4 linked regions of the Homo sapiens genome follow. The protein of the gene in region 1 purifies or fractionates together with the protein of each later gene. This does not show direct contact. Each region holds a gene or a part of one and is shown in the gene's direction. Other genes may lie near its edges.

Region 1 (5,223 bases):
CTTCCTCTCGCCTGTTTGGTCTGAGGCAGCTGCTTCCACTCCTGGCTGATTGTGGCAGGGACCTGGCTTGGCATAAAGCCACACAAGCCCCACCCTTAGCTCAGGAGGCCGAGGCCCAGCCCCAGCCCCAGCCCCAGGCCAGGCTGTGGCTATAGTTACCAGGTGTGATATCAGTGGGCTCAGGATTCAGGGTCAGAGAGGGATGAAGTCTGAGGGTAGAGCTCAGCTTCCTGCTTCTGCAGGGCTCTGGCAAGGCCCAAAGTCGCCTAGACAGTCTGCTTAGCTTGGCAGAGGGCTGTGGCAATGCTGAGCTCATGGAGGCACCTAAAGTGGGATGGGGCTAATCAGGGTGGCTTCCCAGAGTGGGGATTTAGCAGGTCTGAGAAAAGGGGAGACATGGGCAGGCAGGGATGAGCCCTGCAGAGTGCTGGGCGGGATCTGGGGATGCTGGGGATAAGGTTAGAACTTTCCACTAGCTCACTAGCTGTGGTATCTTGAGCAAGCAACTTCGCATCTCTCTGTCTCTGAGGCCTCCTCTGTGAAGTGGGCATGGGAACAGCGAGGGCAGCGTGTTGGGAGGATTCAATGAGATGCTCCTCGGTGGAGGGCCCCTGGCCAGCGCCTGTCACGCGAGGTGCTCAGTGTGGTGGCTGCCCATCAGGAGGCCAGCCATAGGGAAGGGCCTGATGATTCTCCCTCAGGCCCCTTCCATTTTACCGGAGGAGGGAATTGAGGTGGAAAAAGAGACAGGAAGAGCCTGGCCTAAGGTTCTGCGGCCATTTCACCACAAAGCCAAGATCTCCTATACCCTGGCTGGGGTCAACTTTCTTTTTTATTTTATTTTTTTTGAGACAGGGTTTTGCTCTGTCATCCAGGCTGGAGTGCAGTGGTGCGATCATGGCTCACTGCAACCTCAGCCTCCCAGGCACAATCAGTCCTCCTGCCTCAGCCTCCCAAAGTGCTGGGATTACAGGCATGAGCCACCATACCCAGCCAGGTCACTTTCAGTAGTAACCATGGCAACCAGGTTCTCTCTTTGAAAGAGCTCCAGGTGTCCTCTCCCTGCTTTCCCCTGTCATCCCCTCCTCTCCCACTCCCAGCCAATATCTGTCCCTACCAAGGTAACAGATGAGGACTTGCCTATCTTATTTTACTTCTCTGCCAGCAGTGTCCTATACTGTCCACTGCTCCTTCCTTCTCAGGACCTCCACCAAGCTCTTAGGCACCAAGCTGCTGCCCTCCCATTACCCTCTGCTTCTAGGCTCTGTCTCTTAGCTGTCATCACCACCTCCTTTTTTCTCTCAGGTTTTTTTTTTGTTTTTTTTTTTTTTGGAGACTGCCTTGCTCTGTTGCCCAGCCTGGAGTGCAGCGGTGCAAATCACTACTTACTGCAGCCTCGACCTGTCAGGCTCAAGCAGTCCTCCCACTTCAGCCTCTCAAGTAGCTGGGACTACAGACACACACCACCATGCCTGGCTAATTTTTGTATTTTTAGTAGAGACAGGGTTTCTCTATGTTGCTCAGGCTGGTCTCGAACTCCTGGTCTCAAGTGATCTGCCCGCCTCGGCCTCCCAAAGTGCTGGGATTACAGGTGCGAGCCACTGCACCCAGGCCCTCAGCTTTTCAATGTGATGTTCCTCTGGCCTGGATTCTCCTCTGTGTCCACTGTGCCCCAGTGAGCTCACCTGCACTCCATGTGTAGACAGTTCCCAAATGTTTGTCAATTAAGATGCATTTAACTATAAGTCAAAGAAAACCCTTCCTCAGCCAACAAGAACATTAAGGAAGTTTTGTTATCCCACATGCAAAGAAATCCTAAAGAGGCAGCTCCAGGGGTGTTAATTCAGTGACTCCAAGACATCATCAGGGGCTCAGGTTTCTCCATCTTTCCACTGAACCTGCCTTGACATGTCAGCCTCATGTGGTTGTAGGATGATGGCCGCGGTTCCTGCTTCATACATAGAAAGGACACTGTCTAGGGGAAGAAAAGGAAAAGGCCTGCTTCTTCCTGTAGGTTTCTCTTCTTTTCCATTTTCATACTTTTTTTTTTTTTTTTTTTTTTCTGAGACAGAGTCCCTCACTCTGTTACCCAGGCTGGAGTGCAGTGGTGCGATCTTGGCTCACTGCAACCTCCGCCTCCTGGGTTCAAGCGATTCTCGAGTAGCTGGGATTACAGGCACCTGCCACCACGCCCGGCTGATTTTTGTATTTTTAGTAGAGGCAGGGTTTCACCATGTTGGCCAGGCTGGTTTTGGACTCCTGGCCTCAAGTGATCCACCTGCCTTGGCCTCCCAAAGTGCTGGGATTACAGGCATGAGCCACCGCATGCCCGGCCCTGGCTACTGTTTTCTACAGCACCCCGCATTCTGGCTTTGTCTGGCAGTTTGCCCGTGGGGTATTTGCCTCACTCCTCTATCTGCTGTTTTGCGTACCAACTGGACACTAGATTTGGAGGTTTGATTAGATCGAGGGTGAAATTCTTGGCAATGCTTCAGGGTGATGTCACCCATATGTTACACCACTTCCTTGTATATGTTGGACAAATTACTTGATCCCTTTGTGTCTCAGTTTCCTAAAACAGTTCATTTACCTCCTGGGTGTGTTTCAAGGATTACAGGGGGTTGATCTACATGAAGTGTTTAGAACAGTTCCTATGATGCCAGTGGGAGCTGCTCTCAGTACCTTCATTTCCATTCCTGGGACCCCTATCCTCCTCCCTCCCCCCCACAACTCAGCCTCGGCTCTAGGTCTGGGCTCTAAAGACTTTGTGTGCTTGGCAGTCCCTGCATCCCATGACTCGGAGCTGATGGCCTTCATGACGAGGAAGTTGTGGGACCTGGAGCAGCAGGTGAAGGCCCAGACTGATGAGATACTGTCCAAGGTGGGGCTCCAGGTGGGAGAGGGCCAGGGGCCGGTCTGAGAGGTGGAGGGACTGGGCTGGGGAGGCCAGGAGTTGGACTAGGGTGGGTGATTCTAGAACCGTCTACCACACTGACCTGCCCAGTTCGAGGACCAGGTGTGGCCTGGGCCTGATCTAGGTCCTGTGACCTGAGCCGAGAGGCTGGGGGGTCTTCCCCTCAGCTGAGCAGGACCCAGTAGACCCTGGACTGGGTGGCACAGTGGACTGCTGAGCAGAGCGCGGCACCCTCAGATGTGGGGGTCCTCAGGTGTGGGCCGCACCTCTCCCTACCTCAGAGGAACTGCGAGGGTTATCTGAGGTCCGGGAGAAGTGGCTGTGCCAAAGGGTGGCAGGGGCTTGCTGCTCCCCAGCATCCAACATAGGCAAAGCTCTGGAGCTTCCTGTCTGGGCAGGGCTCTGGGAACCACAGGCCCTGTGCTCACCCTGTGTCTTATGCTACAGGATCAGAAGATAGCGGCCCTAGAGGACCTGGTGCAGACCCTCCGGCCACACCCAGGTAGGGGGCTCTTGGAGGGCTGACCTGCGCCCCCAGTCAGGCACCTCCCCTGGGCCCAGGGCTCCTGGAAGCTTCACAATGGCTTCTGGCATCAAGAGCATCAAGCTGACTACTTGGTGGGGTCTGGACAGCTGAGCCCACAGAGGGGCTGCAGCATATCCAGGACAGTGCTGGAGTCACTCCATGCCCTCCTACATGGGACCGAGTCCCATCTGAAGTGTGGAGGAGAGGAGGCTCTGAGGGGAGTGGCAGCCTCCTAGGGCCCATCAAGGCACCGCCACGGGGTCAGAGGAGAGGCCAGAGAGGTGGGGGGCCAAGAGGCAGTTCTTGGGGGATCCCCAGAACAGCTTCTCCAGATGACCCTCAGGGCAGAGGTGACCTGGCAGTGTCTTGCTGGGGCAGCTGAAGCCTGTCCCTGTCTTTCCCTGAAGCCGAGGCAACCCTGCAGCGGCAGGAGGAACTGGAGACGATGTGTGTGCAGCTGCAGCGGCAGGTCAGGGAGATGGAGGTGAGAGAGCTGGGCCCCGGGGGATGCGGGCAGCCAGCAGTCCCCAGCTCTTCACGGCATGTTCCTCAGGAGCTGGGTCCGAGCCCACCTCTCTGGGCCTCTCCTCGTCACATCCCACCCAGGGACCCTGCCCTGCATTTCCCTACCCAGGACTGGCCCAGACTTTAAAGAGCCAGGGAGGTGTCTGGGGCTGGGGCACACCCCTGCTTTTGGGCCCTCTGAACATGCCTCTCCCCTGCTTAGCAGACCTCATGGCTCCCACTGAACTGAATTCTACAGTCCTCGCTGTGGCCCCTGCGGGCTGGCCCCTGCATGCCTCTTCATCTTAGCTTGAACCACTCTCCCCTCCAGCCATGAGGCCCTTCCTCTGGGTCTTTGACCTCATGGAGCTGCTTCCCACCTCAGGGCCTTGGGCCGTGCTGTTGCTGTTCCCTCTGCTGAAATGTTTCCCCACCTCCCCCAGGTCAGTTCCACTGTCCTCAGTCATATCCCCCGGGCCTCCTAGGCAGGTTTTCCATCCCGAGCTTTCTCAGTGCCTCATCTCTCTTCCCTTGTGGGACTCTGAACTCCACGACGGAGGGAGCAGTTTCCTCCTGTATGTCACTGTGCACCCAGGACCTAGCACTGAATTGGTTAAGCAATTTGCTGCCTCTGGCTGTGACTTCTGCTCACTGGGGACTCAGTGACCCCAGTCACCTTTCTTTCCCCCGCTCACAGACCCATTCAAACAGCAAGGGAACTAGAGGGACACCAGGCACAGAGAAGGGTCCCAGGCACGCATGGGCCCTGCCAGAAGTTCTTCCTGGGATTCAGCCTCTCTCCCTCTCCACGCAGAATTGGTTTCCAAAGTCCCAATCTAATTTAAAACCTTGGCAGCAAACCTCCAATTGCAGCTGAGAGCCCTTCCCACTCCAAGCTGTTCATACCTGGGGTTGTCCCCGAGCAGTGGCCACAGGCGGTGAGGGCTGCACCAGAGCCTCGGGGCAGGGGCATGACTGCCCTTGCATGCGTCTCCGCCACACAGTTATCACTTCATTCATTTAACAGCCTCATCTGGAGGATCTGCTTGGGGCAGGCCTGGGGCAGAGCATGACCAAGACAGACATAGTCCCCCGCCTGCATGAGGCTGCCAGTCTGTGGGGAGGGGAACAAACGAGTACACAGGTACACAAGTACAGAGAGTGCTGTGACTTGATGAAATGGGTGACACCACAGAGGCAAGTTGGGGGACCACCTGCGGGGGTGACATTGGGCATGATGTCTGGTGAGTGAGGAGGGGAATGGGGTGAGAGGATCCAG
Region 2 (3,500 bases), on another chromosome or scaffold:
AAAAGCAATGTTATTCTTCTCAGCACATCACACCAGGAAGTGCATGATGTCAGTTTCTTCCATCCTCAGTGCCGTCTTCTGCCTTTCAATTCACTGTCCTCACTCTGACTTCTCTTGTTTGTTCTAGAACTTTGCTCCCCAGCTGTCTTATGGCTATGATGAGAAATCAACCGGAGGAATTTCCGTGCCTGGCCCCATGGTGAGCCAGCAGGGGGAGCATGGATGACAGAAGAGAGAATGGGTATCCAGAGGAGGTGGGCATAGGCGGCTGGTATAGACAGCTTGGGAGGTCCAGATCACCTTTGGGACCTCAGAGTCCAGAAAGGATGCAGGACGACTGGGTGGTCCCAACAGGCATGAATGACTACATCCACATGCTTTCCTACAGAGGGATCACCATGACCCCCCTTTCTTCTCCCTCTATAGGGTCCCTCTGGTCCTCGTGGTCTCCCTGGCCCCCCTGGTGCACCTGTGAGTATCCAGGACGTCTTCATATGCCTCCTTGGGCTTTGGTCTTTTGGAGGGAAGACTGGGATGAGGGCAGGAGAGATGCTCAGAGATCTCTTGGTAAGATTGGAGAAGGTTGACAGGGACTTGTCTTCTAACCCATCTTTTTCCTTCTTCTCAAGGGTCCCCAAGGCTTCCAAGGTCCCCCTGGTGAGCCTGGCGAGCCTGGAGCTTCAGTAAGCACTCTCTATACAGATTCATACTCCTTCTACAAACACACAGACTCTCCTATAGAAGAACTCCCAGGCCTGGGGTCTTCCTTACCTCTTCCCTTCAATCCCAGCCTTCCCCTTCTTTTTTTCTTATCCATATTCTAACCACCTCTTCTATCTTTTCTAGGGTCCCATGGGTCCCCGAGGTCCCCCAGGTCCCCCTGGAAAGAATGGAGATGATGTAAGTATCCCCAGCAAGAAGATACCATCTGACCCCATGGCCTCCATGGGTTGGGTCCTGCAATTTCCACTCCACCACATTTGGGAACGATACTCAGAGGAAGGAGGGCAAGTCCTCTCTGATGCACGGACTGCCCTGGAACAATGATCTTTTCGCTTAGTGAGATGATTCCATGTCCCCAACAAAGTGACTGTTCTCCTCACCCCAGCCACCTTAGAGCAATCCCCAACCCCATCCCTTTGGGGAAATTGGTGCGCAGATGGTGAAATTAAAATGCTGGTGACAGAAGTAGACAGAAATTCCTTTAGAGGCACTCAGATTTCACCAAACGAAGGTTTCACTGTAGATTTAAACTGAGCTCTAGATTCAAAGATAAGATTCTGGGCCCCCAAACCTGACCTGCAACAATCCAAAGAAGACTGAGACCTTCTCCACTTTTCCAGCCCCTAGGCGGTGGTGGGGAGGCAGAGGCATGATGGTCTTTTCTCTCCCTCTCAGGGGGAAGCTGGAAAACCTGGTCGTCCTGGTGAGCGTGGGCCTCCTGGGCCTCAGGTGAGCAGGGGGCTGTGGCTGAACCTGGGCTTCACTGCACTTGGGCTTCATTTAGGAGCTGGGTCCACAGTGATGTGTTCTAATGGCCCTTCCTTGTCTTCTTCATCTCTCTCCAGGGTGCTCGAGGATTGCCCGGAACAGCTGGCCTCCCTGGAATGAAGGGACACAGAGTGAGTCACCTTTGAGTCATTTAAGCTCCCCAAGTCCCTAGCATACCCCCATCCAGTCCCAACCTCTTCCCCAAAAGATACTGAGTTGCATCATGGTGGGTGGCAGCTACAGAAGTCCCAAGGGACAGAGAGTGGACATCCAAAAGCACCTCCCTCCATGGGAAAGCAGTCCCGATTAAACGATTGGGTGAGATCTAGAGCCAGTTGGGGTTTAGTCTAGCTCAGAAACAAAGGGATGGCGGTGATGACCTCCCAAGGCTCTTTCTCAGATCTAGGTGGATGTCAAGGCTGTTCCACCCCCTCCACAGGTTCTTACCTTCTACCTCTTTCCTGCTTTAGGGTTTCAGTGGTTTGGATGGTGCCAAGGGAGATGCTGGTCCTGCTGGTCCTAAGGTAAGAGGCTGTCTGAACATCATGGTCCTCCACATCCCCAGAGTCCCACCATGAATGAATTTCTCACTCATTATTCTCTGATCTACAGGGTGAGCCTGGCAGCCCTGGTGAAAATGGAGCTCCTGGTCAGATGGTGAGTGTGCCCAGTTCCAGAGGGCAGGGATGGGGCAGGAGGCAGGGGCAAGATGGAGGCCTGGGGGAACAAGGCTGTCTCCCATCTCATCTGACTTCTCTTGGTTTGGTTGTCAGGGCCCCCGTGGCCTGCCTGGTGAGAGAGGTCGCCCTGGAGCCCCTGGCCCTGCTGTAAGTACTCCTGGCCCCTTGGGGGATCCCTGAGCTCTGGAAGGGGCTCCCCAGGAACTCTAGGGACTGGCCAGTGCTCAGTGGACTTAACGGGGCTTCCCCTCTCTCCTGCAGGGTGCTCGTGGAAATGATGGTGCTACTGGTGCTGCCGGGCCCCCTGTGAGTGTGGCCTGTAGGCCTCAGGGCCTGGGAGTGGGGAGGGGTCTCAGTATCTGCTCTTGGGGCTGACAATGGGAGCAGGTTATGTTGGTCTGAACCCCAGGACTTCCTCTGTCCCAGGGTGTGACTTGCAGCTGCCATCTCTTCCTTCTCGCTGACATCTCCATTTCATTCACAGGGTCCCACCGGCCCCGCTGGTCCTCCTGGCTTCCCTGGTGCTGTTGGTGCTAAGGTGAGACCCCCCACTCTCCTCTAAGCATGACCCTCATGGGCCAAGGGGTTCATGTCTCCCTGTTCCCCAAACCAAAGGGACCCAGAGTGGCAAGAGAGCAGCCCGTTCACTAACACCTTTGTCCTGGGTTCTCCGTCTCTGATCTTAGAGTCCTGATCATTGCTCTCCTGTCCCTGTCTCCCCTTCCTCCTGCCATCCCGAGAGGCAAGGTTGGGTTTCCCAGGGTGGCTTCTGATATGTCCTTTCTTCTGATTCAGGGTGAAGCTGGTCCCCAAGGGCCCCGAGGCTCTGAAGGTCCCCAGGGTGTGCGTGGTGAGCCTGGCCCCCCTGGCCCTGCTGGTGCTGCTGGCCCTGCTGTAAGTGTCCCCGACTCAGTGTCCCCTTTGCCACTTTCTAACCTCAGAGTCCTTGCCTGTTGCTGACACTCCTTTCTCTGTGCCACAGGGAAACCCTGGTGCTGATGGACAGCCTGGTGCTAAAGGTGCCAATGTAAGTATCCTGCCAGGCTTCAGTCCCACTCCTGCCGCCTGCAGCCTGCCTGCCCCTTTCCCTCTGCTCCTAGGCTCACGCCCTGGCTGTCTGCCTCCCACAGGGTGCTCCTGGTATTGCTGGTGCTCCTGGCTTCCCTGGTGCCCGAGGCCCCTCTGGACCCCAGGGCCCCGGCGGCCCTCCTGGTCCCAAGGGTAACAGCGTGAGTACCAAACTCTCCCTTCTGCCCACCCCATGCACTGGCTCCAGTGCGGCTCTCATCTGGGGAGCAGGAAGACGCAGGCCAACTGAGCGCCCCCGAC
Region 3 (3,500 bases), on another chromosome or scaffold:
GGAGTCTTGCTTTGTCACCCAGGTTGGAGTATAGTGGTATAGCGGCGCCATCTTGGCTCACTGCAACCTCCGCCTCCTGGGTTCAAGCAATTCTCCTGCCTCAGCCTCCCCAGTAGCTGGGACTACAGGCTCACACACCACCATGCCCAGCTAATTTTTGTATTTTTAGTAGAGACTGGGTTTCAACATTTTGGCCAGGCTGGTCTTGAACTCCTGACCTCAAGTGATCCACCTGTCTGCCTCCCAAAGTGCTGGGATTATATGCATGAGCCACTGCACCTGGCCTCAAGCTCCATTCTTTTTTTTTTTTTTTTTTTTGAGATAGAGTTTCACTCTTATTGTCCAGGCTGGAGTGCAGTGCCGCAATCTCAGCTCACTGCAACCTCTGCCTCCCAGGTTCAAGTGAGTCTCCTGCCTCAGCCTCCCAAGTAGCTGGGATTACAGGCGCCTGCTGCCATGCCCAGCTAATTTTGTGTATTCTCAGTAGAGTTGGGGTTTCACCACGTTGGCCAGGCTGGTCTCGAGCTCCTGACCTCAGGTGATCCACCTGCCTTAGCCTCCCAAAGTGCTGGGTTTACATGTGTGAGCCACTGTGTGACCTCAAGCCCCATTCTTAACTTTGCTGTTAGTTAAGATAGCAAAAAAATTTTTTTAAAAAAGATTCTCTGGGGAGAACTACTTTAGGGTCTATGGCGGTGGTTCTTTTTTGTAATACAATAAATCTGAATGAATTTTGTTTTGAAAGCTGTTATCTGTAAATTGTTATTTAAAATTCATTATTTTAACTATAATTGTCTTGACTACACTTTTATTAATACCTTAAGATTTTAATATGTTAAATATCTTTTCCCCTTTTTAGGTATGGCTGATGGCAAGCATTGTACTTTTCCACATCTGCCTGGCAAAACCTTTGTCTATAATGCTTCTGAAGATAGACTGGAATTGTGTGTGGATGCTGCAGGACATTTCCCCATTGGTCCTGATGTTGAAGATTTAGTTAAAGAGGCTGTAAGTCAGGTTCGAGCAGAGGCTACTACAAGAAGTAGGGAATCAAGTCCCTCACATGGGCTATTAAAACTAGGTAGTGGTGGAGTAGTGAAAAAGAAATCTGAGCAACTTCATAACGTAACTGCCTTTCAGGGAAAAGGGCATTCTTTAGGAACTGCATCTGGTAACCCACACCTTGATCCAAGAGCTAGGGAAACTTCAGTTGTAAGAAAGCATAATACAGGGACAGACTTTAGTAATAGTTCCACTAAAACAGAGCCTTCTGTATTCACAGCTTCTTCTAGTAATAGTGAGCTTATTCGAATAGCTCCTGGAGTAGTAACAATGAGAGACGGCAGGCAGCTTGATCCTGATTTGGTTGAGGCCCAGCGAAAAAAATTGCAGGAAATGGTTTCTTCTATTCAGGCTTCAATGGACAGGCACCTTCGGGATCAAAGTACAGAGCAGTCACCATCTGATCTTCCTCAAAGGAAAACAGAAGTTGTGAGTTCTTCTGCAAAGTCTGGGAGTCTTCAGACTGGTTTGCCTGAATCTTTTCCTTTAACTGGTGGTACTGAAAATTTGAATACAGAAACAACTGATGGCTGTGTAGCAGATGCACTGGGAGCAGCCTTTGCCACAAGGTCAAAAGCACAAAGGGGAAATTCCGTGGAGGAGCTTGAAGAGATGGATAGTCAAGATGCTGAGATGACTAACACAACTGAGCCAATGGATCACTCTTGATTTAATTAGAGGCTAATAAAGGCAGAATGTTTATTGTGAATATGTAATATTTGTTGGCTGGGCCACGTAACTTGATTAGTCATTAAAAATCTTGTACGTATATAATTCAAAGATTATATCTTGTTATTCAGTGCATGATAGCAAGTGTGTGATTGGCCATAGCTTTTAATATACTGCTGCCCAGGCTGGCTCTGAATTTCTATAAATTAGCTGTTAGATCTGCTGAGATGACTTTCTTCCATATATGTGGTTCATTGGAAGTTCTTTGTAATTTTAATTCCATGAAAGTCTTAATGTTTCCAACATGAAAATTCTCTTACTTAAATACGTTTGATTTCTGAAAAGCCTACAAATGGAGGGGAAATGAGATTGTGCTAATGTTGATGTCATCAAGGTAACCATCTCATATACTAGTGTCAAAAGGTTTATGTAAACTTGAATTTTATCTGAACTAAATTGTATCTTAAAATTCATACAATTATTTATTAGACAGTGGAATGCAAATGTTTCTATGAACGTAAACACATTCATAGAGATTTCTTGGCGAAAATATCTTGAGAATAGAATGTAACGATATAACATTTTGCTGATTTGTGCAAGATTGGGGAAAAATTTCTTCTAGATTGATGAGGTCAATGTGATTCAGTTGTGTTGCTGTCTGAGCCACAGCCAATTGTGTGTGCTCTATTAATATGTTACCATTATTTTTGATTCCTGGCTTGGTCAAGAACAACCTGATTTTTTTTTTTTTAATCTTGCAGAAAAGTTGATTGCAAAGTGTGGTAGAAAAAGAAATAATGGTAGCAGTAGAGAATTTATAAATAAGAGTTTATCTTTATGAATGAGTTAATTGTTCTACAATTTTGATCAGTGGTATTTAAGCCTGTATATGCTAAGTGTATTTATGCCCCTTTGAGCCAAAATTTTTTTTTTTTTTTCAGAATCCATAAGAGTTTATTTGTTGGCTTCACTTGGGTTTAGATGCAAATTTTACTGCATCACACCCTGATCAGCTGGGTATTTGCTTAGTGTATTCATCAAATCTTCAGTGCCAGTTTCCTTGAGAAGCAGCTTTCATGCTTATTCCTTAAAAACAACAGAAGAGTGTTTATCCTGAGATTGGTATTGCACTATTTTATTTTATTCTGCAAATCTGTATCCTGAAGTGTACATTTCAACCCATATTCTTCTCTGTTCACTGAAATTAAGTTGAATTTGAATGGCTGAAAGACAAAATATATGTTAATACAATCTCTTACCTAGAGCATTCAAAGCCTGGCTGTCTCTGTTTGCACATGTAACAGATGCAGAACTGTGTTTGTAATTCTAAGAAAATGTATGTCAGAAAGTATTTTATCAGATGTTTAAAAATCTCTGCCTGTTGATTCATAAGGGATATAGACAGTACTTTAACTTGTGTTTCCAGATAAGGCAGATTTTGGTCATCTTTCTGTGAAAGTATCTCTAACTGAATCCACTTCTTAAACAAACTACTCTATTTTAAATAAGGAAAGAATGGAGAATCTAGACATTTTACAGGTGTATCTGAGCAAAATATATATTTGGGTTAGTTTTTATCACATTATCACGTTTGTCTTTATATTTTATCTTCATCCTAAATTTTCTCCCTATCAAAACAGCAGGAAATTTTTAAACTTTTATATTGTACACTATTTTTGCATAAAATAAGAGCTGTAGCTACCAAATACTATTTACTACTTAGTAAAGGTGGCTTCTGTGTATTAAACTACGAATTACAAATATCACTT
Region 4 (3,500 bases), on another chromosome or scaffold:
GGTTCTGTTGACTTTTAACTAGTAGGTTGTATTATTAATAGCAAAACATCTGAAAAGATTCTACTACATTAAAAAGGACAGTTTTTTTCTTTCTTTTTTTTTTTTTTTTTGAGACAGACTTGCTCTGTCACCCAGGCTGGAGTGCAGTGGTGTGTGAACACCATTCACTGCAGCCTTGACCTCCTGGGCTCAAGCAGTCCTCCCACCTCAGCCTCCCATGTAGCTGAGACCACAGGTATATGCAAGGACAGGGTTTTAACAGTTGCCATGGGGTAAATAATACTAAAAATAGAAAGTTTTTTTTTTTTTTTTTTTGAGACACAGTCTTGCTCTGTTGCTCAGGCTGGAGTGCAGTGATGCCATCATGGCTTACTGCAGCCTCAACCTCCTGGGCTCTGGAGATCCTCCCACCTCAGCCCCCCCAGGTAGCTGGGACTACAGGTGCGCACCACCACTCCCAGCTAATTTCTGTATTTGTTTTGTAGAGATGGGGTTTTGCCATGTTGCCTAGGCTGGTCTCAAACTCCTGGTCTCAAGCAGTCTGCCTGCCTTGGCCTCCCAGTGTGCCAGTATTACAGACATAGGCCACTGCACCTTGCCAGAAAGTGTTTTTTTTTTTTTTTTTTTTTTTTTTTTTTGAGATGGAGTCTCGCTCTATTGCCTGGGCTGGAGTGCAATGGTGCGATCTTGGCTCACTGCAACCTCCACCTCCTGGGTTCAAGCGATTCTCCTGCCTCAGCCTCTCAAGTAGCTGGGATTATAGGTGCCCACCACCACGCTTGGCTAATTTTTTGTGTTTTTAGCAGAGGCAGGGTTTCATCATGTTGGCCAGGCTGGTCTCGAACTCCTGACCTTAGGTGATCTGCCCTCCTCGGCCTCCCAAAGTGTTGGGATTATAGGTGTGAGCCACCATGCCTGGCTGAAAGTGTTTTTATATAGTCATTTATGTAGACATACAGAAGAGACTTTTCCATATTCCTTTACTATGACCAGATTGAATTTTTCATGCCAAGGACAGTGCTTAATTTGAACACACATGTTTAGCCAGTTCTCTGTGCTCTACCTTAGAGTTAGTTCATACTGCCTTTGTTATGGGAACTATTCTGGGAAATAGGAAGGAAAGCCGAGTGAAAAGGAGTAGAAACTGCTTAAGAAGGTTTGTCAGGATGCAGATTGGTAGGTTGGGGGTAAGGACAGAAAAGTCTTCATACAGCTTAACTTTAAAATTTAATTTTATTTTTTGTCTGGATTTCTACCAGGAGCTTTATTTGGGTTAACAAGTATGTTCTAAAGCCTAGGAGTATGAAGGGGATATCATCCCAGTATGTTACTGTGAGCTACTCACTTCAGCTTGCTTTCCTCCTCCTGTGACATTTGCTTCATTAGCACATTTAATCTCAGAAGGTGGGTAATTTTTGAGCAGGATCCGTTTGGAGTAGGTAAAAGCTAACATTTCTGATACTGTACACTTTATGCCAGTTTACAAACTGTGTCAGTTTTTTTTTTTTTTTTTTTTTTTTTTTTTGAGTAACAGATGGACAGTTAGAGGTTCCGAGGTATTAAATACCCAACCTAAAGTTCAGTAGCTTGTATGAGGTGGGGCCTGGAATCAAACCCAGATTTTCTCGATTCCAAATCCCAAATTCCATCTAATTAATCCTGAATGGGTTTTTTTTTTTTTTTCTTTAGACAGAGCCTTACTCTGTCACCCAGGCTGGAGTGCAGTGGCATGATCTCAGCTCGCTGCAACCTCCAAGCAATTCTCCTGCCTCAGCCTCCTGAGTAGCTGGGAATACAGGTGCATGCCACTGCACCCAGCTAATTTTTGCATTTTTAGTAGAGACAGGGTCTCACCATGTTGGCCAGGCTGATCTCGAACTCTGGCCTCAGGTGATCCACTGTCCTCAGTCTCCCATGGAGTTGGGATTACAGGTGTGAGCCACCATGCCCAGCCCAGAATGGGGTTCTTTTTTTTTTTTTTTTTTTTTGAGATGGAGTCTTGCTCTGTCACCCAGGCTGGAGTGCGGTGGCACGATCTCAGCTCACTGCAATCTCCGCCTCCTGGGTTCAAGTGATTTTCCTACCCCAGCCTCCCGAGTAGTTGAGATTACAGGTGCCCACCACCATGCCTGGCTAATTTTTGTATTTTTAGTAGAGACGGAGTTTCACCATATTGGCCAGGCTGGTCTCAAACTCCTGACCTCGGGTGATCCACCCGCCTTGGCCTCCCAAAGTGCTGGGATTACAGGTGTGAGCCACCGCACCCGGCCCTAAACAGGGTTCTTATGGCAACATAGGGGATAAAAACAATGTGCGCAGAGGGTAATAGAGAAGGGTAGAGGGTAATATAATTGCCTCTATTTATTGAATACGTACTCCATTGCAGTCTCTGCTGGTTGGTTTTGTATTATCTTTAATCCTTACAAACTCGCCACGACAGACAGTGCTGTCTTACATATGAGGAAATTAGGACTCATAAAAGTTAAGTTTTGTTTAGTCATAGAGTTAGTAATTGGCAGTCAGGACTTCCTTCTGACTCTGGCAGACTCCATAGGCTGTGCTCTTTTCATATCATACTGTTTTCACATGAAAGAATCTAGAACTCAAAACTGGTTCAGGAATACCGTGGAATAAACAGAATAGACTGGTATTGGGCAAGCCTGGGAACCTAACAACTCTTTACCATTGTTTCCAGGTTGTGAATATAAGAAGAGATATGTTTGTAATTTAGGGACTTGCCTATATCACCAAAAGATGGTAACTTTGGCATTTGAAGTGTTCAACTACAGGTTAAGTATCCTTTATTCAAAATGCTTGGGACCAGAAATGTTTCAGATTTTTTTTTGAATTTTGGAATGTTTGCATTATATACTTACTGGTTGAGCCTCCCTAATCTGAAAATCTGAAATCCAGAATAGTCTAATGAGCATTTATTTTTGTGTCATGTTGATGCTCAAGAAGTTTTGGGTTTTGGATTTCCAGATTAGGGATACTGAACCTGTATAGGAATTACAGCCTAGCTTTTCACTGAGCTCCCTGGATCCTTTTTTCTTTTCCTGCATCCTTGCCTGTCTTTTTTCTATTGTTAGTCTGTGTTGCAATTGTGCTAAGAAATTTTGAAGAAGCATTTGTAGAGATTAACAAAAAATATGTGGAAATATTCTGGGTAGATGTGATTTCTATACAAACCAGGTTTGGGGAAAAACAGTCAAAGTGATTCAGGAGATGAGGATAGACTGGAATGGTTAGAATTCCTAGAATTGCACTTTGAAGTGTGAGTAAAACAGTGACTAGCAAAGTTAGAGATGTAGGTTGGAAATGTAAATGTATTTAACAGAAGGTTAGATAATTTTATGGAAGATCCTCAGTTAATTGTTAAATCGACCCATACCATGTCATTACATGTTTATTCATGCTGTTGTGTCAAGGTGATACAGGGCTGGGTAGAGCAGGATCTGACCTAGCATATCAGTTCTTTTTTTTTCTTTTCTTTCCTTTTT

The links. Proteins that work in one complex are often made in the same cells at the same time.
Region 2: the proteins of UBXN11 (region 1) and COL1A1 purify together in Homo sapiens (affinity purification with mass spectrometry; 3 studies listed by BioGRID and IntAct, with this or other methods). This does not show direct contact.
Region 3: the proteins of UBXN11 (region 1) and VCPIP1 purify together in Homo sapiens (affinity purification with mass spectrometry, with the first as the bait; one study listed by BioGRID). This does not show direct contact.
Region 4: the proteins of UBXN11 (region 1) and ABI1 purify together in Homo sapiens (affinity purification with mass spectrometry; 3 studies listed by BioGRID and IntAct, with this or other methods). This does not show direct contact.

What each region holds. Positions count from the first base shown.
Region 1 is NC_000001.11:26,295,620-26,300,842, reverse strand, and holds part of UBXN11 (UBX domain-containing protein 11), read left to right. Parts: intron 1-2,780; coding exon 2,781-2,881; intron 2,882-3,361; coding exon 3,362-3,416; intron 3,417-3,847; coding exon 3,848-3,924; intron 3,925-5,223. UniProt on the Homo sapiens protein: May be involved in the reorganization of actin cytoskeleton mediated by RND1, RND2 and RND3. Promotes RHOA activation mediated by GNA12 and GNA13.
Region 2 is NC_000017.11:50,195,132-50,198,631, reverse strand, and holds part of COL1A1 (collagen alpha-1(I) chain preproprotein), read left to right. Parts: intron 1-127; coding exon 128-199; intron 200-426; coding exon 427-471; intron 472-629; coding exon 630-683; intron 684-846; coding exon 847-900; intron 901-1,398; coding exon 1,399-1,452; intron 1,453-1,568; coding exon 1,569-1,622; intron 1,623-1,961; coding exon 1,962-2,015; intron 2,016-2,103; coding exon 2,104-2,148; intron 2,149-2,264; coding exon 2,265-2,318; intron 2,319-2,432; coding exon 2,433-2,477; intron 2,478-2,655; coding exon 2,656-2,709; intron 2,710-2,966; coding exon 2,967-3,065; intron 3,066-3,153; coding exon 3,154-3,198; intron 3,199-3,301; coding exon 3,302-3,400; intron 3,401-3,500. UniProt on the Homo sapiens protein: Type I collagen is a member of group I collagen (fibrillar forming collagen).
Region 3 is NC_000008.11:66,632,732-66,636,231, reverse strand, and holds part of VCPIP1 (deubiquitinating protein VCPIP1), read left to right. Parts: intron 1-859; coding exon 860-1,731; 3' UTR 1,732-3,500. UniProt on the Homo sapiens protein: Deubiquitinating enzyme involved in DNA repair and reassembly of the Golgi apparatus and the endoplasmic reticulum following mitosis. Necessary for VCP-mediated reassembly of Golgi stacks after mitosis.
Region 4 is NC_000010.11:26,854,459-26,857,958, reverse strand, and holds part of ABI1 (abl interactor 1), read left to right. Parts: intron 1-3,500. UniProt on the Homo sapiens protein: May act in negative regulation of cell growth and transformation by interacting with nonreceptor tyrosine kinases ABL1 and/or ABL2. May play a role in regulation of EGF-induced Erk pathway activation. Involved in cytoskeletal reorganization and EGFR signaling.